Linked DNA regions of Homo sapiens: region 2 is linked to region 1. Evidence: fine-mapped expression QTL. A gene starts in region 1. The other region holds a variant in brackets. All regions are shown on one strand. Distances are between the middles of the regions.

The links. PIP is the estimated chance that this variant, and not a neighbour inherited with it, causes the effect.
Region 2: its variant is the best candidate, but not a certain one, in a credible set for the expression of YARS1 in whole blood (INTERVAL, PIP 0.59).

The regions. Positions count from the first base shown.
Region 1 is chr1:32,814,150-32,823,967 of GRCh38, reverse strand. It overlaps YARS1 (tyrosyl-tRNA synthetase 1), which reads left to right and starts at 6,610. Exons shown (of 13, transcript NM_003680.4): 1 at 6,610-6,780. The coding sequence starts at 6,724. S100PBP (S100P binding protein) reads right to left here and starts at 6,315. Exons shown (of 7, transcript NM_022753.4): 1 at 6,279-6,315. RefSeq lists enhancers at 4,609-4,738, 4,749-4,898, 5,359-5,468, 5,902-6,071, 6,439-6,748 and 2 more.
Region 2 is chr1:32,940,046-32,950,252 of GRCh38, reverse strand. RNF19B (ring finger protein 19B) reads left to right here. Exons shown (of 9, transcript NM_001300826.2): 2 at 479-684; 3 at 1,890-2,031; 4 at 3,689-3,851; 5 at 4,625-4,739; 6 at 6,094-6,234; 7 at 7,794-8,001. Among named protein-coding and RNA genes, the nearest start is that of RNF19B, 20 kb to the left of the region's middle. RefSeq lists an enhancer at 2,199-2,700. The variant T/C (reference allele first, on the strand shown) is at 5,814.

The sequences.
Region 1 (9,818 bases):
CTCGGCCTCCCAAAGTGCTGGGATTATAGGCGTGAGCCACTGCACCCAGCCTAGTTCATGCATTCTTTTAGAAGATATTTTTTGAGCTACAATCATCACACACCACAAGCTGCATATGTCTCTTTATGATTTCCAACAAATCAAGGTATAGCTCCTGCCCTCATAATGTATAATACGTAATGTATAATCTTAATGTATAATCTTGCTAGAGAAACAACACTGAAAATTAAACACCAACATGAGATAATATAAAATGGTATGGACAATAAAGTACTAGAGAAAGAGAAGCAAAGGGAGGGATTATAGAGTTCTAGAATTAGAAGGGACCTAGTTAAACTTACTCATATTAGAAATGAAATGGGAGAAAAAGAAATACTAAATACCTATTATAAACCAGGTGCTCTGAGACACATTTTACGACTCTAACTTAGCCTCTCAACACAATTCTGTAAAATTAATCTTATCAAAGAAATCATTTTGTTGTATTTAAACCTAGAGCTGCTAAAACTTATTTTATTTTACCAATACTATATTCCAGCAATTGTTGAGAGTTCTAGGTGTTGAAGCAGCTGCCTCTATGAAAAGTAATTTCTCTGCATTAGTGACTGAGTTATTCATTTCTTTAGGAAGCAGTTAGAAAAAAAAGTTTAGTATGGAAAACATTCTTTGACTTAAGAAAATTTATGGTTGTCAGACAGGTTATCACAGGCACTGGGGTTAAGCAGCTACATTTCTTAGATGCCCTTTCTGGGCCATTGCCCCCCATTCTAACTCCTTACAAAAGGTCTAGTTCAAGCCCTTGGTTGGCCAAATGGAGAGTTCAATAGATTTTTCCCTCTTGGGAAACTAAAGTTCAGAAGCATGAAGTAACTTAACTGAGTATACATAGCTAATAATGTTAGAACAAGGATCGAAACCCAGGTCTAATTCCAAATGCAATGTTTTTCCCACTACATCTGTGACAGACTTGCACAGGATTGGTCAGCAAATGGCAGAGCTAGAATCCAAACTCAGGCCTTCTAAATTCAGTACAATCTATAACAAACTGTGCAAGAGTAAAGACCAAAGAGGGCTTTTGGTCTCTTGGAAAAAATATTTTAAGCCACCTTAATAGGACCAATATCCTTCGTAACCATTGCAATAATCAATTCCTACACAACATGACATTCAGATGCAAAAAAATGGGCTTTTCTGAGCTTCTTATGTTCCAATAGATCTGGGAACAAAAGTATACAAAACAATACCATATATATGGTATATATAGAGAGGAGGAGATAATTTTAATTTGTACAAACCATTCTCTTTCTGATGTCTGATGTTACTTCCTCTTTTTTTTTTTTTTTTTTTGAAACGGAGTCTAGCTCTGTAGCCCAGACTGGAGTGCAGTGGCGCGATCTCGGCTCACTGCAAGCTCTGTCTGCCTCCCGGGTTCACACCATTCTCCTGCTTCACTCAGCCTCCCGAGTAGCTGGGACTGCAGGCGCCCGCCACCACGCCTGGCTAATTTTTGTATTTTTAGTAGAGACGGGGTTTCACAGTGTTAGCCAGGATGGTCTTGATCTCCTGACCTCAGGTGATCCGCCCGCCTCGGCCTCCCAAAGTGCTGGGATTACAGGCGTGAGCCACCGCGCCCGGCCATTTCCTCATTTTCAAAAGTACTTATTATAAAGAAAGTAAAACATATACATAAGTAACATAATAGTATAATGAACCACCACATACCCATCACTCAACCCCAATGACTATCAACTCATAGCTAATCTTGCCCCATCCACTTCCCACCTTTACCAGATTGTTTTGAAGCAAATCCCAGGCATTGTATCATTTCATCTGTAAATAACAAGAATTCCTTATCATAAAATATACAGTTCAGATTTCCAATTATCTTATGTCATATTTTTTTTTAAGGCTAAAAAATAATCAGTATCCAAGTAAGGTCCATACAATGTGACTGGCTGATAATGTCTTATGTGTATTTTAATCTAAAAATTTCAGATCTTTTCCCCCTGCAATTACTTTATTAAAAAAACAATACGCGAGATGGCTTACGCCTGTAATCCCAGCACTTTCGGAGGCTAAGTTGGGCGGATCACTTGAGGCCAGGAGTTCGAGACCAGCCTGACCAACATGGCGGAACCCCATTTCTACTAAAACTACAAAGAAAATTTAGCTGGGCATGGTGACGCGGGCCTGTAGCCCCAGCTATTCAGAAGTCTGAGGCAGGAGACTCGCTGAAACCCAGGAGGCGGAGGTTGCAGTGGGCAGAGATCGCACCACTACACTCCAGCCTGGGTGACAGAGTAAAACTGTATCAAAAAAAAAAAAAAGAAAGAAAGAAAAAAGAAACAGGCCAGGCGCAGTGGCTCACGCCTGTAATCCTAGCACTTTGGGAGGCCGAGGAGGGCGGATCACGAGGTCAGGAGTTCGAGACCATCTGGACCAACCTGGTGAAACCCCAACTCTACTAAAAGTACAAAAATTAGCTGGGCTTGGTGGCGCGCACCTATAACCCCAGCTATTCGAGAGGCTGAGGCAGGGGAACTGTTTGAACCCAGGAGGCAGAGGTTGCAGTGAGCCCAGACCGCGCCACTGCACTCCAGCCTGGGTGACAGAGCAAGAGTCAGTCTCAAAAAACAACAACAAAAAAGCCACAATACCACGTATTATGTATGGATACATATATCACAAAATTATTAAAATATGCATGAAAGGCCGGAATTCAGGATGGTCTTGATCTCCTGACCTCGTGATCCGTCCGCCTCAGCCTCCCAAAGTGCTGGGATTACAGGTGTGAACCACCGCGCCCGGCCAATGTTTTATTTCTTAAGAAAACAATATCTCATCTTAGGCTACATGACAATAAATAAATAAGGAAAAAAAAATAGCAAGAAGAGACCTGAAACAAATATGGCAACCTAAGACAAAGCAGCATGCTAGGTATAATAATGTTCATTATGTTACTTTTACACTGTTAAATTATTGTTATTTTTTTGAGACAGGGTCTCAGGTTTGTTGCCCAGGCAGAAAACAGTGGCGTGATCATAGCTCACTGCAGCCTTGAACCCCAGGGCTGCTGGGACTACAGGTACACACCACCATACACAGCTAATTTTTTATTTTTATTTTTTGTAGAGACATAGTCTCATTATGTTGCCCAGGCTGGTATTGAACTCCTGGAGTCAAGCGATCCTTCTGCATTGGTTTTCCAAAGTGCTGGGATTACAGGCATTGAGCCACCATACCCAGCCACTATACTTTTTTATATGCTTGAAATAATAAAAACATCTTAAAATTATGAAGTCAATGGGAAAGATACAATGATTATACTCTGTGAAGTATCAAATGTCCTCATATATCACAGTACCTACCTGATAGGGTTGTGGCAAGAATTAAATGAGATCGTGAACATAAATGTGGCACACTAGAGGCATGGCATAAGAGACAAATAACTGGTGGCCATAGTTATTATTTCACCCCACCACCATCATTGCCCCGATCCCTGGAGTCTTAAGAGAAGCATAGGGCCAGGCGCAGAGGCTGATTCCTGTAATCCCAGCACTTTGGGAGGCTGAGGTGGGTGGATCACCTGAGGTCAGGAGTTCAAGACCAGCCTGGCCAACATGGTGAAACCCTGTCTCTACTAAAAATACAAAGATTAGCCGGGTGTGTGGTGCATGCCTGTAATCCCAGCTACTTGGGAGGCTGAAGCAGGAGAATCGCTGGAACCCAGGAAGCGGAGGTTGCAGTGAACTGAGATCGCACCACTGCACTCCAGCCTGGGTGACAGAGCGAGACTCCATCTCAAAAAAAAAAAAAAAAAAAAGCATAGGAACGGTAGGAAAAAAGAGTGCTAAACTGGTAGGGAATTTCCCCTAGACCCTGCTTGAAATTATCTAATATACTCTACTCTTATCTAGTTTAATCCAGCACTCAACCATATTGTCACTGAAGACCAGACTAGGTAGACATCTGAAATATCCGGCAAATTATGCAAATTAATGTTCACTGAACTATCCTTTATAGAGGTACTGGACCTCAGCAATTCACTTCAAGTCTCTGAACTTCAATACAGATGAGAACATGCATCTAAAAAGGGGGTAAATACTGTTAACTTCAAACACAGATTATCATGAGAAAAAATAGGATGTTTATGAAAGTACTCTAAACCTAAAAGTTCTATACTAAAAAAACATGGTATTTAATGAATGTGCAAGGGGGGAAATCCTCATATAAAACTGAAGTTCTTCAGTGAAATTCCAAAGACAGCCTTACTTATTACTTCTCTGTCAAAAGAAGGCTTGCTTACTTCTCTGTCTACCATCTACCACCTTTCTTAGCACTTGTCTGGTAACCTCCACTTAAAATATGGGGACCCCTTTATTTTTTTATTTTATTTTTATTTTTGAGACAGGGTCTCACTCAATCACCCAGGCTGAAATGCAGTGGCGTGATCTGGGCTCACTGCAACCTCTGCCTCCCAGTTTCAAGCGATTCTCATGCCACAGCCTCCCAGTAGCTGGGATTACAGGCGTCCACCATGCTAGGCTAATTTTTGTATTTACAGTAGAGATGGGGTTTTGCTATGTTGGCCAGTCTAGTCTTGAACTCCTGGCCTCAAGCAATCCTCCGGCCTCGGCCTCCCCAAGTGCTGGGATTACAGGCGTGAGCCACCATGTCTGGCCATATCCCTTCATTTTTAAGGGAAGAATATTTTTCCGATCTTCTAATTCTATTTCTTAGTTCCTCTACACCCCATCCTTTCTGTGACCCCATTCTGTCCTTCCACATCTCTCTCACCTGTCCACCCCCTTCTTCACACTTCAGTTTACCACCCCCTCTCTGTTCTCGAACCTCCTGGTTGCAACCTCAGAAACTGGTTCCCTTTCTATTTTTATCTCACCTCAGAAAACCTACTGCCTTCGAGCACAAAGCCTTACTTTATTGAGGCCACTAAAACTGCAACACCAGATGCAAGCCCACATCCTCTTTCAAGCTCTAAAGTCAAGACCATTACCAAGCAGGGTCTGACAGGTACAGCCAAGAGCAGAGATTATTTCCAGTGGACAAGACTTCCCCCTGGCCTTTGATTTCCAACCTTTCCCAAATGCAATACATGTGAAGCACACAGCACGAAACGCACTCAGCAGGCTTTATCACTCCATAAAAAATAGGCACAACATTTACAAAAAATCAAAAAGAACTGAAATTATCTGTAACAGTTTTGCAAATTCCTTCGAAGTAACTAAAAACACTGCAGGACGGAAAAAACAACCCAGGGCTGCAAATCTTTGCTTTAGGTAACATTTCACTAGATGAGGGTGCCAGGATTCTCCTCCCACATGGACACAGAGAACAGATGCGCTAAGCTGCAGCAACAGGTTTCTTTTCAAAAAGAAAATGTGCTTTAAAACACTTCAGGCAGGTCTGGTAGAGCTTGGAGTCCCTAATAAATACACAAAACACCGGAGATCAGGTTAGGGCAGGCCGTGGGCAATTCAACCACTTCTAGGACCTTTCCAGGGCCCACTGAGGTAATAACTGCTTTCCCTCTTGCCCTGGAAGTAACTGGTGACGCCGCCTCCAGCCCTTGAGGAGCCGGAGAAAGGGTGGCCCAGGCCCAACCTTTGGAGGATACTGCCTTGGCTCTCTCTCACAAATGCAACGGCCCGGGACGGTGTCGCCTTCCAGGAAGGGCCTTTGCGTCTCCCTCCCCCGGGGACACCGCGAATTCCCGCCTCCCGGCGGAAAGCGGGAGAAGCGAGAGTTTTCTCCCCGCCCCTCCCCCAGTAGGGGCAAACCCGCCCCTCAGCAGGCCTGTGCTGTGCGCTCCTCTCCCGGGGACCACCGTCCTCAGATCTCCCCAGGGAATGGGTCGTCCTCTTCCTGCCCCCACCCGCGAGACGCGGCAGAAAAGCCCGCGGCTATCTTCCCGCCAGCAACAGCCTCCCGCCGAGCCGGCCGGGACAGAGGCGGCCCCCACCCCCACTGGGCAGGGGACTGCAGACGGCGCTCCCCGACTCTCAAGACGACCAGGGAGCTTCCCTTTTCCTCAGCGGGGTGAGGGGCATCTGTCGCCCGCCGACTTGGAGGTGGAGGGGCAGGGACATTCCCTCGCCATCACCTCAGGAGCTAGAACGCGCCCTTCTCGCAGCAGGGCGTGGGCCTCCCAATCCCTCCAAGGGGCGGACGGCGTGCGCAACCCCCTGGAGAAGCAACAGGCGCCCCCATCCCCCTCCAAGCCGGGTAACGCCGACCCCCTCGTCCCTCCCGCTCTTCACCTCCGGAAGCCGGGCCAAAGCCTGGGCGAACGACTGCGCCTCACTCCGCCCCCTGCGCCATTTTATCGCCCCCTCCCCGACCTCCCCTACCCCGAGTCAGCCGGGCCAACACCAGGGGGAGGGCAAACCAGCAGTGATTGGCAGGAAACCGTCCCGCCTCTAGGAGGGTTGTGCCCCGCTCAGGCGCCTCAGCCCCGCCCTCCGCACCGCCCACCGTGCCCACTGGCTCCACCTTTTCCCGTCTCATCGACCTGCTCGACTCTCTGCTGCTCCTCACTTTTTCCGGCCGCTGCCGGAGGGGTCCAGGCCGAGTAAGCGGAGCGCCGAGCCCAGCTGATGCAACCTGGCTGGACTCGCGTGACAGTTCCCGGCACGCGGCGGCGACGGTGACCCAGGAAGGGGCTCTGGTGCCGGGCTGAGCGGGGGAAGCAGGGGTAGCGGAGCCATGGGGGACGCTCCCAGCCCTGAAGAGAAACTGCACCTTATCACCCGGAACCTGCAGGTCAGGCCTGGGGGTTGGAAATGCGCCGTTGGGGATTAGGAGCCCGAGGTTCAGTGATTTTGAGCCCCATTACGGGGTTCTAAGTATGTGGGGCCGGGGACTCGGCGCTGGCGCAGCTCTGAGAGAGCCTGTAGATCTCACTGCTGGTCGGTCAGTCAATCAAGCAGCCCTTCCCTGGGTTCCCCAGAAATCACAGTGGGCTCACCTCTTGCGTCCAGTTGTCTTGTGTTGGAGCCAAACTTTGAATCCAGGACTCCCATTCCACCCCCCTATTAAGTGCCAGACGTGGTGCTTAGTCGCTGGGGATACGTCAAGGGCCTGCCAGAGCTTGTCTGAAGGGGATCAGACGTTAAAAATGACCCATTACGGTTCAAGTAAGTACTGGAAGATGCTATACTGGGAGCTTTAAAGGGAAAGAGAGAAGGGAAGGCTTCCCTGAGGAAGTGACCTCCAAACTGCGCCTTGAAGGAAATGGATCCCCCCCCCTCACTCCACAAATGTTCCGTTTGTTACCAAGAACTACAGGAGTAGAAGTGAACCAGAGGAAGAATGGAAGAATAAGGAGGGAGAGCATTTCAGATGGAGGAAACAGAAATTGTGGCAAATTTAGCTGGAGTGGAGTGAGCAAAGTTATGAGGAAGCACTTAAATATTTATATTGCTTACCCCTTAACTTTTTCAGGCTTCTGACTGTTGTCACCTTATCAGCGACGCATGATTTCCGACCACTTTATTTAAATAACAAACCCTCTGGCACCAGAACTGCCCCATACCTTGCTCTGCCTTTTTTTTGTTATTGTTTCTACATAGTATACATTTTATTTATTTGTTTAAGAGAGGTAGGCAGGGACCAAGTCACGGGAGCCTTGCAGGCCTTATTCTGTTCAATTTTAAATTGGGCTTCCTTCTAAGAGTAGTGATAAATCAGTTGGGCCACACAGCCTGTTCTGTTTTTTCTTTTTAGAGATGTACTTCACATACTATAAAATTCACCCTTTTAAAGTGCACAATTCAGTGGGTTTTAGTATGTTCACAAGGTTGTGCAACCATCACACTATCTTTTTTTTTTTTTTTTTTTTTGAGGCGGAGTCTCGCTCTGTCGCCCAGGCTGGAGTGCAGTGGCCCAATCTCGGCTCATTGCAACCTCCGCCTCCCAGGTTCACGCCATTCTCCTGCCTCAGCCTCCCGAGTAGCTGGGACTACAGGTGACCGCCCCCACGCCCGGCTAATTTTTTGTATTTTTAGTAGAGACGGGGTTTCACCGTGTTAGCCAGGGTGGTCTCGATCTCCTGACCTCGTGATCCACCCTCCTTGGCCTCCCAGAGTGCTGGGATTACAGGCGTGAGCCACGGCTCCCGGCCACAACCATCACACTATCTAATAAAACTTGCACCCGTTAGCAGACGCTACCTATTACCCACTACTCCTAGCCTTAGAGAAACACTAATCTACTCTCTGTCTCCAGGTATTTGCGTATTCTGGGCATTTCCTGTAACTAGAATCATACAATATGTTTGTTGTGTCTGACTTTTTGCACTTAGCATAATGTTTTCAAAGTTCATGCATGTATTTGCACCTAGCAGAACGTCATTCCTTTTTATGGTTGAATGATACTCTGTTGTATGGATATACATTTTGTTTATCCGTTCATCAGTTGATGGACATTTGGGTTATTCCATTTACAACTTAGTCTTAACCAAAGGTTTTTGCACGCTTCCCCTAGCTAGATTCTTTGTTTCCTATTCTCTCTCCATAAAATAGTGCTGGTTGGAGACTAAAAATACACAAAACTATTAGAATTGACTCAATTGGGTTTTTTGTTTTGGGGATTTTTTTTCTGGAACGGAGTTTATCTCTTGTCGGCCAGGCTGGAGTGCAATGGCACAATCTCAGCTCACTGCAACCTCTGCCTCCTGGGCTCAAGTGATTCTCCTGCCTCAGCCTCCTGAGTAGCTGGGATTACAGACGTGCACCACCACGCCGGGCTAATTTTTGTATTTTTAGTAGAGACGGGGTTTCACCATGCTGGCCAGGCTGGTCTCAAATTCCTGACCTCAAGTTATCCGCCAAATTCGGCGTCCCAAAGTGCTGGGATTACAGAGTGAGCCACAGTGCCCGGCCTCACTCAGGTTTTAAAGGCTAAGTAATGTGACATCTTCTTGGATGGTGAGAACCCTCCAAGTGTCCACGTTGTCAGGGGTGCTCTTGAGCATGCGGGATCAGCTGCCAAAAGACTTGGAGCACAGGAGTTTAACAAGTCCTGGTAAAACATGATTCAAACCAGCAGTCTATCATGGTTTCTGACAGCCTCCCAAAACCGTAACTTGAGGAAACACTACAACCTCTTATCGGGGTACACTGGCCTGTTAGAATTTTTCCAATACTGTCATAGGACAAAAAGAAATCATTAAAGGTTTGTAAAAAGGAAAATGAGTTTTAAAGAAGTTTTTGAGTTTTAAAAGACTGTCTCTGGCTACCTTTTAGAACATGGATTGGAGGGGCCAAGCGCAGTGGCTCATGCCGGTAATCCCAACACTTTGGGAGGCCCACACGGGCAGATCACTTGAGGTTGGGAGTTCAAGACCAGCCTGGCCAACATAGTGAAACCCCATCTCTACTAAAAATACAAAAATTTCTCTGGCCTGGTGGCGGGCACCTGTAATTCCAGCTATTTGGGAGACTGAAGCAGGAGAATCGTTTGAACCCGGGAGCAGAGGTTGCAGTGACTCAGGATTGCATCACTGCACTCCAGCTTGGGTGACAGAGCAAGACTCCGTCTCAAAAAAATAAAAAAGAACTTGGATTGGAGGGAGTAAGAGTAGATTTGGGAGACCTGTTAGGAGAATGTTACGGTAATCCTGGTGTGATCTGATAGGGCCTGGATTTGGGTGGTGATGTAGAGGCAGAGAGAAATAGGAGGGTTGAAGAGCAGTTTTGGAGTCCTTGAACAACTCTAAATGATGGTACCATTTACTGTAGTAGGAGTGAAACTATCAGTGAAAAAGATGGTTGGGGAGTGAAGTAAGAAGTCAAGAGCAT
Region 2 (10,207 bases), 130 kb before region 1:
GCCTGTAATCCCAGCACTTTGGGAGGCCGAGGCGGGTGGATCACCTGAGGTCAGGAGTTTGAGACCAGCCTGGCCAACATGGTGAAACCCCATCTCTACTAAAAATACAAAAAAAATTAGCCAGGCGTGGTGGCTTGCACCTGTAATCCCAGCTACTAGGGAGTCTGTGGCAGGAGAATTGCTTGAACCTGGGAGGTGGAGGTTGTAGTAAGCCGAGATTACACCACTGCACTCCACAATCCAGCCTGGGTGACAGAGCAAGACTGTCTCAAAAAAAAAAAGTTTACTTTCTCACATGGGATATATTTTACAGTTGGTCAAATGTGCTTGTGTGTGTATATGTGTGTATGTGTATTCTTTTCTCTGTATCATATGTGATAGTGGGGTAGTGCCAAACATTGTTAACTCTGATGAATAATGTCTCTTTTGGTTAGATCATTCTTACCTTACTGGTATCTCTTACTGTTTCCTTACCTAGTTATGCTGTTATTGCCTATGGCTGTGCCAGCTGCCCGAAGCTAACTTGTGAGAGGGAAGGTTGCCAGACTGAGTTCTGCTACCACTGCAAGCAGATATGGCATCCAAATCAGACATGCGATATGGCCCGTCAACAGAGGGCCCAGACTTTACGAGTTCGGACCAAACACACTTCAGGTCTCAGTTATGGGCAAGAATCTGGACCAGGTATAAGTTGGCATTATCTCATTGTCTCTTTATTTGGTATTTCATGATGTGAGCCCATAGCTGAAAGAAATTATCTTATTGTATAACCCAAGTACTCCAAAGGATCAGAGAGCAGAAAATATCATTTGATAATACTTTCAATATTATAATAAAGATAGCACTTCCCTCTCTGACCATTATAGGTTATCCAACTATATAAAATTGAAATGCAACAAAATTGAATTATGTAGTTCCTACTTTCTTAGTAATATGTCTCAGATTGGAGAGCAATTAGTTCATTTTGTTTTGCTAGGGGCTTTTTCAAAACTTTCATTGTGAACAGAAAGACATTTAATTAGTATTAAACCTGTGCTGTTTGCCTTCAAGCTGACTTAAGTGCCTCACTGCCTTTGGAAGTAGAGTACAGATTGAAGAAAAGGAAACAGTATTAGTATAGATTAATGATTAACCTTAAAAGGAGGAATGTCACACATTCAGCTCCAACCTTGGCGAGTCAGAGGAAACCTATTTTAAAATGTCAGTGGATTTATTGCTTTGTACTTTTATTTTGCTGATGTCATTTGGGAGAGGCTAGTAGGAAAGATTTTGCCATTCACTTTTTCCTGGCACAGCATAATTTCCTAAATTGTCATTTTATTAGGATAGTTCATAACTTGCTCTGAAAATTACCAAGTATATGGTAGATAGCATACCCAGTTGTTTTTAGGTTTTGAATTTGAAAGTATCATGGGAAGGGATTGTGGGCTATGTTAACAGCAAATCACAATGATACATGTTGAACCTGAAAAATAAATTTCCCAAACTAAAGTTTTTAAAAATGTAAAGCTAATTCCAGGCTGCAGGCTATTCTTTCTGTAGGATTCTTCTTTTAAATCTACCAGCCTATCGACTGGTAGAAATTTCATTTTTCTTGGAAACATCTTTCTCCCTAAGGAAATCTCCTTGCTAGAATGTGGTTCAAGTGCTGTGTAAGATGCCAGTTGTTGGGATAGGCAGCTCAATAAGAGACAGGATTCATTTTATGAAAATTCCTGAGGTCTAGACATAGCCAACCTTCCAGTAAAGTGGGTTGTACAATTTGGAGTGTTCAGTGAAGAGTTCTTGACTGCTGCCTCATTTCTTATATATACTCCTAGGAACAATTAAATCAAACTGGATTTAACTAGGGGTATTTTTTCTACCCATTCTTCCCCCACTCATAGCAGATGACATCAAGCCATGCCCACGATGCAGTGCATACATTATCAAGATGAATGATGGAAGCTGTAATCACATGACCTGTGCAGTGTGTGGCTGTGAATTCTGTTGGCTTTGTATGAAAGAGATCTCAGACTTGCATTACCTCAGGTAAGATGGGAAATGCATCCATTCCTTTCGTAGTCTCATTCTCTTACTGATTTAGGGAAAAGGATGTCAAAAAGACACATCCGTTCTCTCATTACAGGTTTAAGGAAGCTGTGAAAACTTCTTCTGACATGCTCCTCTAATCATGTTTTCACCAGCTACTATTCTGTTTCTACCTTTCTTTGCTTGCCATATTACAGGTAGTCTGGACTTGCTTTTTCCCTTTTGCTGTCTTGCCTCCATACTTGTTCATGTTCTTTCCTTTGCCTAGAATGCTTTCTGCCTACCTTCCAGTATCCTCCTTTTATCTCAACTTGTTCAGTTCTTATCTTTTAAGAGCCACTTAAATGCCTTTCATCCATGTTGCCTCTCCTTTTTCCGCCTCATTCTTTGACTTTCTTTTATCTTTTGTCATAAATATCGTCAGTACTTTACACTTCACGTACCTATCTTATCTTACTAAACTGTAAGTATCTTGAGGCTAGAGTTGTGACCTTTTTACAGTTTTTTGCATTTAGTGAGTTCCCAAGGAATTCATTAAGTGAATTCTTTTTTTTTTTTTTTTTAAGACAGAGTTTCTCTCTGTCGCCCAGGCTGGAGTGCAGTGGCTCGATCTCGACTCACTGCAACCTCCACCTCCCAGGTTCAAGTGATTGTCCTGCCTCAGCCTCCTAAGTAGCTGGGATTACAGGCACCTGCCACCATGCCCAGCTAATTTTTGTATTTTTAGTGGAGGCGGGGTTTCACCATGTTAGCCAGCCTGGTCTCGAACTCGAACCTCAGGTGGTCCGCCTGCCTCGGCCTCCCAAAGTTCTGGGATTACAAGCGCGAGCCACCGCGCCCAGCCTCATTGAGTGAATATTAAAATGTTGTGGAGGAGTTAATATTTACAAACAAAATGTTTGCTAATATTTACAAATAAACAAAATGTGTTAATATTTACAAACAAACATTCATTGTGTAAATGAAACACAACACCTTCATTGCCAATTTGTCGAACATTTGAGTACTTACTGTGTGCTAGTCATTGGGGACATAGGGGTGAGTAAGACATGATCCCTATTTTCAAAATTGTTTATCCCTTCTAGTGGAGAAGATAGCACAAAGAGAATGGGCAAAAATGGTTGGGCACAGAAGGGCTGACTGTAAAAGTAGCCAAACTCAGAATACCAAACTGATAGAAAGGTTATGATGAGGTCTTTTTATATCCTCTCCCACGAACATGGTTTGCAGTATCTATTAGGTATGGTAGGACATATGCCAAGAAAACTACACAAATCAGAGTGTTCATTAGTGCAGGGTGCAGTGTGTCTGGATGGGATGTCAAGTGCATAAGGCTATGCAGCATCCCAAGTATTGTCAGTCATGGAAGCTAGATCAGTTTTGGTGGGTTAGGGAAGACAGAATTCAGCAGAGAAGAATGGAAAAGGAATTTCAAGTCTGGAAGCCTGTCTTTACAACAACAACCAAAAAAGTTAAAGAGCCCAGAGCTCTAATAGTCTGGCCTTGTCCTTTGCTCTCCCTTGTGTAATGTATTCATTTCCCATAAACTCTTCTGTTAATCCTTACTGAAAAGAAGGCTGTTGCTGTTATCAAGCCCTATGATAATACTAGCTGTATTTGTAATGTTGACATTAACTTCAGTCTGTTTCCCCTGCAGCCCCTCTGGCTGTACATTCTGGGGCAAGAAGCCATGGAGCCGTAAGAAGAAAATTCTTTGGCAGCTGGGCACGTTGATTGGTGCTCCAGTGGGGATTTCTCTCATTGCTGGCATTGCCATTCCTGCCATGGTCATTGGCATTCCTGTTTATGTTGGAAGGAAGGTAAGAAAGACATGCTGGTTTCTGTGCTTGTTTCAACTTTAGGTTCGTTAGTAAAGGTTTGAGGGAAATGGGAAGGAGCTATGTTTCAGAGCTGCCTGAAAACCAGCTGGTTCTTAGATAAAAATAACCTTACTTTCTTAAATGGATTTTCATAAACCCCCATGAGATCTGAAAGTTCTTATTAACATCCTGGGCCTGGCTTGTCTCAGTGACTTAAAGGTAGAATGCTGGGCCAGGCATGATGGTTCACATTTGTAATACGTGGCCTAGCACTTTGGGAAGCCAAGGCAGGTAGATCAGTTGAGCCCAGGTGTTTGAGACCAGCCTGGGCAACATGACAAAACCCATCTGTACCCAAAAAAATAGAAAAATTAGCTGGGTATGGTGGCATGTGCCTACAGTCCCAGCTACTAGGGAGGCTGAGGTGGGAGGATTGCTTGAGCCCAGGGACGTAGAGGTTGCAGTGAGCCAAGATCGCACCACTGCACTCCAGCCTGCATGACAGACTCCAAAAAAAAAAATAAAAGAAGAAGGTAAAATGCTTACTTCATTCTGCTGGAGTTATTTTGTCTCTTTTTGGATTAACTTTGCCTGTATTACTTTATATCTTCCAGGTCTGAGTTAGGTTAAAATTTGATAAAGATGCCTATTTGGGGTAGAGGATATGTTTTAATATAGATAACTTACAAGTGAATATTCACCTGTCCTTTTTTTCTCTGGCAAAAGATTGATGTCCTAACCTGCTGACCTGGATTTTCTTTTTTTATTCTTAGATTCACAGCAGGTATGAGGGAAGGAAAACCTCCAAACACAAGAGGAATTTGGCTATCACTGGAGGAGTGACTTTGTCGGTCATTGCATCCCCAGTTATTGCTGCAGTTAGTGTTGGTAAGCTAGTCAGGACCACACCTCTTCTCTCTCAGCTTTCTGACCATAGCAGTTTAGCCAGATGGCCAGATGTTTCTCAAAGACTCCTACATTTTATGCGAACCCACCTTGATAGTAAATTCTGTTAGGCACCATGATTATGATTATTTTTAAGTTTTTCAAGCACACCAAATTATCAGAGTGTGCAATCTTTTGTTCTTAAGTTAGTGCCTAGAACTCCATTTGGCACATAGAAAAGGTTGAATTACAGAAACTTATTTTAAGCCCTAGTTTTCACCTTTCATCTTCCTTCTCTACTTGCCATGAAATCCACAAAACAAAATTACTTTTGTTTTGATTTGTTTAATGCTTCACATTACTTTGGGAGGCATAAGAGTTTGTTTTAGAATAATAATAGTGTAACTAACATTTAATGTGGCTCTTCATGTGCCAGGAGTGGTTCTGAGACTTTTGCATATATTAATTTATTTAATCCTCACAATCCTTACAAAAGGAAGCACAATTTTAATAGAAAGGTGCAGTAATTGGCTGGGCGCAGTGGCTCACGCCTGTAATTCCAGTGTTTTGGGAGGCCGAGGCGGGCGGATCACGAGGTCAGGAGATCGAGACCATCCTGGCTAACACGGTGAAACCCCATCTCTACTAAAAATACAGAAAATCAGCCGGGTGTGGTAGCGGGTGCCTGTAGTCCCAGCTACTTGGGAGGCTGAGGCAGGAGAATGGCGTGAACCTGGGAGGCGGAGCTTGCAGTGAGCCGAGATCGTGCCACTGCACTCCAGCCTGGGCAACAGAGTGAGACTCCGTCTCAAAAAAAAAAAAGAAAGGTGCAGTAATTTTCCCAAGGTCACTTAGCTGGGACATGAATCAAGTTAATCTGCCTTCAGATCCTGTTCTCTTAACAGCTAAGCCATTCTACCTCACACAGCAGTAAGATTTTGGAATTAACATCCTGAGGAGATCCTAAACTCCAAGCAGTAGTCACTTATTTAATATTTGATTCTTGATTGGCTCTTGATTGGGTTAGCATTTCAGCAGTGATTAGAAGAGGGGAAAATGAAAGCAACATATATTTAC[T/C]GTGCAAAACACAGTACATAGCATTCTCATTTGATTATTGACAACCCTGGGAAGATAGGTCCAAGGTTATACAGCTAGTAAATGGAGCCAAGAATCTAATCCAGACCTTTCTGATTTCTAGCCTGGTCATCATTCTGTTACACCAGGCCACCTTTTTGGGATAGCCACTTTCTGTCTTCCTTTCTTTATAAAGTGGTTTGTCCATGCCCAGACTGGGAAGAAGAATTCAGGGCACTTGCAACCTAATAGCCAGCTGACATGTTTCCTTCTCTTCCCCCAGGTATTGGTGTCCCCATTATGCTGGCATATGTTTATGGGGTTGTGCCCATTTCTCTTTGTCGTGGAGGCGGCTGTGGAGTTAGCACAGCCAACGGAAAAGGAGTGAAAATTGAATTTGATGAAGATGATGGTCCAATCACAGGTAAAAAGCAGGATGTTTATTTCCATTTGAATTTATGATATACAAGATAAAAATCAGTAAAATTCAGCGCATTTTACAGGGAGATTGTCATTGGATTACTTTGGATAATGAGCTTTGTAGGGGGTAAAGTATTTTTAGCTTTTCATTTCTTTGTTCCAAAGTTATTAGGTTAATTCCCCTGGTACTTGCCTCTGTGTGGCAGGTACAAACTAGTAGGAATCCAAGTAACTCCAAGTATGCTGGTAGTAGTAGTGATTATAATAACATCTTTATATCTGCACAGTACTTGATAATTTTCAGAGTATTTTACACAATTATCTCACTTGCTTTTTACAACAAACAGCTCTCTGACGAGGGAGGATGGAGCTGTTATCCCCATTTAAATGGGAATTTCTTTTTTTTTTTTTGAGACGGAGTCTCTGTCACCCAGGCTGGAGTACGATGTCGCGATCTCGGTTCACTGCAACCTCCGCCTCCCAGGTTCAAGTGATTCTCCTGCCTCAGCCTCCTGAGTAGCTGGGACTACAGCAACGTGCCACCACGCCTGGCTAATTTTTTTTTTTTAGTATAGACGGGGTTTGGTGTTTCACCGTGTTAGCCAGGAAGATCTCGATCTCCTCACCCCATGATCCGCCCACCTTGGCCTCCCAAAGTGCTGGGATTACAGGTGTGAGCCACCACATCTGGCCTAAATGGGAATTTCTTTAAGCTTTCATCTTACTATCTATTAAGAGCTTCACAGAGCTGAGACTAGGGCAAGTCTTCTGACTTTTACTTTAATGTGGTTTCTACTCGTAGTAAGTAACGTAGGGCACAAGTAACGTAGAAAACCCCAAAGGTTTTTCTAGCTTCCTTTTTTCTTTTCTTTTTTTTTTTTTGAGACGGAGTCTTGCTCTGTTGCCCAGGCTGGAGTGCAGTGGCATGGTCCTGGCTCACTGCAGGCTCCGGCTCCTGGGTTCGCGTCATTCTCCTGCCTCAGCCTCCCGAGTAGCTGGGACTACAGGCACCCGCCACCACGCCCGGCTAAATTTTTTGTATTTTTAGTAGAGATGGGGTTTCACCGTGTTAGCCAGGATGGTCTCCATCTCCTGACCTCGTGATCCGCCCGCCTCGGCCTCCCAAAGTGCTGGAAGTACAGGCGTGAGCCACCGCGCCCGGCCGGTTTTTCTAGCTTTCTACTAGAAGCTTCCTATTAAAATCAGCACATGACCCAAACATATTTTTTAAATCTTCACGTTTGGTTACATGGAAGCAACAGTGTAGTGGAAAGAATAGTGGCCTTGGAATCAGAGTTATAGTTTCATGTAACTACCATGGCCTTGGACAAGTCATTTAGTTTTAAATTTTAGTTTTCTCATCTAAAATTGAGGCTATTAATGCCTAGTTATTTGGAGGATTAAATATGAACATATGTTAAAACACCTGATATGTGGCGACTGCACACAGTACCTGTTCATTAAGTAAATACATTAGTTCTCTGAAAAGTCATTGCAGGAAAATGCCTACTGACTGTTTTGATGCTCTGCTGTCTTGAATTGGATGTTTGGTTCTATCCCCAGTGGCAGATGCCTGGAGAGCCCTCAAGAATCCCAGCATTGGGGAAAGCAGCATTGAAGGCCTGACTAGTGTATTGAGCACTAGTGGAAGCCCTACAGATGGACTTAGTGTTATGCAAGGTCCTTACAGCGAAACGGCCAGCTTTGCAGCCCTCTCAGGGGGCACGCTGAGTGGCGGCATTCTCTCCAGTGGCAAGGGAAAATATAGCAGGTAAACAAATAGATAATTTCTGACAGAAATGGTTAGAATTATAAGAAGTAACACATTGAGCCATTTCTCTGTGCCAGGCTTGTGCCACGTATCATCTTATTTTGATTTAATTGTCAATGGTTTTGTTTTGTTTTGTTTTTACTTTTTTATTTTTAAAGACAGAGTCTCACTCTGTGGCTCAGGCTGGAGTGCCATGGCGTGATCTCGGCTCACTGCAAGCTCCGCCTCCTGGGTTCAAGCGATTCTCCTGCCTCAGCCTACTGAGTAGCTGGGATTACAGGCACCCGCCACCACGCCCAGCTAATTTTTTGTATTTTTAGTAGAGATGGAGTTTCACCATGTTAGCTAGGATGGTCTCAATCTCCTGACCTCGTGATCCGCCCGCCTTGGCCTCCCAAACCGTTGGGATTACAGGCATGAGTCACTGCGACAGGCCTTTTTTTTTTTACTTTTACAAATAGGAAACAAGCTTAGAAAAAAAGGTTACGTCAGTTATGCAAAGTTCATTGTTCTTTCCATTGCACCATAGCTGCCTCTATATAAAGAATAATCCTGACTTGAGATTCCCCCTTGACTGCCTGAGGCTGCCTGCTTCAGGAAGGGAGAGTAGGCATTTTTATAGAATTCGTAAAATGCTCTCCGTTAGGCTTGTCATTGGCTTTCAGTAGCATTTATGCTGTATCATGGCTTATTTATTTTATTTTATTTTTTTGAGACGGAGTCTTGCTCTGTCGCCCAGGCTGGAGTGCAATGGTGCAATCTTGGCTCGCTGCAGCCTCCACCTCCTGGGTTCTAGTGATTGTCCTGCCTCAGCCTCCCAAGAGGCTGGGACTACAGGCGTGCACCACCATGCCTGGCTAATTTTTGTATTTTCAGTAGAGACAGGGTTTCATGTTGGCCAGGCTGGTCTCAAGCTCCTGACCTTGTGATCCACCCGCCTCAGCCTCCCAAAGTGCTGGGATTACAAGCATGAACCACCACACCCAGCCCATCATGGTTTATTGATAGTGGGCTTTGGGGATTTTTTTTTGTTTTTTTTCTCACTGTGTCATCCAGGCTGGAATGCAGTGGCACAATCATGGCTCACTGCAGCCTCAACTTCCTGGACTCAGGCAATCCTACCACCTCAGCCTCCTGAGTAGCTAGGACTACAAGTGCACACACCACACCCAGCTAACATTTTAAATTTTTTGTAGAGATGGGGTCTTGCTCGGTTACCCAGGCTGGTCTTAAACTCCTGGCCTGAAGCCATCCTCCCAACTTGGCTCCCAACGTGCTAGGATTATAGGCATGAACCATTGCCCCCAGCTGGTTTAGTGATACTGCAATCCTTATTACCTTTCTATTTCCATTTGCTAGATAAGGAAAATCAATTCTATGTACTTGTGTTGAAAATATGTAAAGCTTTGTAACTAAAAAGATTGTGACTTGCTTGGTCATTTCACTAGTTAGGCAGACCAGAGTGTATATTTTCAGAGGAGCATAACATGTTGCCTGAGAAGCAGTTGAATGCAACGGAGAAGAAAGGCCTAGGGAGGGGTAAAGGTAGAACAAAGCAGGATAGGAAGGTAGAGGAGATGGTTGCCTTCAGCTATCCAAAGGACCTTCAACTGTGAAAAGGATTAGACTTCTATGCCTCATACCAAAAGGTAGATTAAGATGACTTGGCAGAAGCTAAAGGGAAACTAATTTTGGTTCAGTATAGAGAATATAGGGAAAAGCAACATGAAAGCCCAAAGAGGAAAAAGGCTACTTTAGTAGATACTGAGCTGCCTATCCCTGGAAATGTTTACAATGAGACCAGATGGCTATTTGGCTATAAGAAGGATTCAAGCAACAGATGGCAGGTGGACTGGATCTCCCACCTGAGTGCCTGTCAATCACTTGGGAGCCTCTTAAAAATAGACTTCAGGGACCCATCCCAGAATGAGTAGCTTAGAATTTCCTGGAGTGGCACCTAGGGGGTGATCCGTGTTTTGCAAAAGCTCCCCAGGTAATTCTAGCACAGCCGTTGCATGAACCAGCATCTGACAACCACCTAAGTAGGAGCCCTTTCTGAAAGACTCTTCCAACTCAGAGTGATTCTGTGGCAGACCTGAAACTAGAAGCCAGGTCTCTGACACTGTGCACTTTCCATTGCATTCCCTCATTTCCCTGGGCCTTGGCACATTTTTGAAGGGCACCTGAAGCTGGAGCAGCAAAGCAA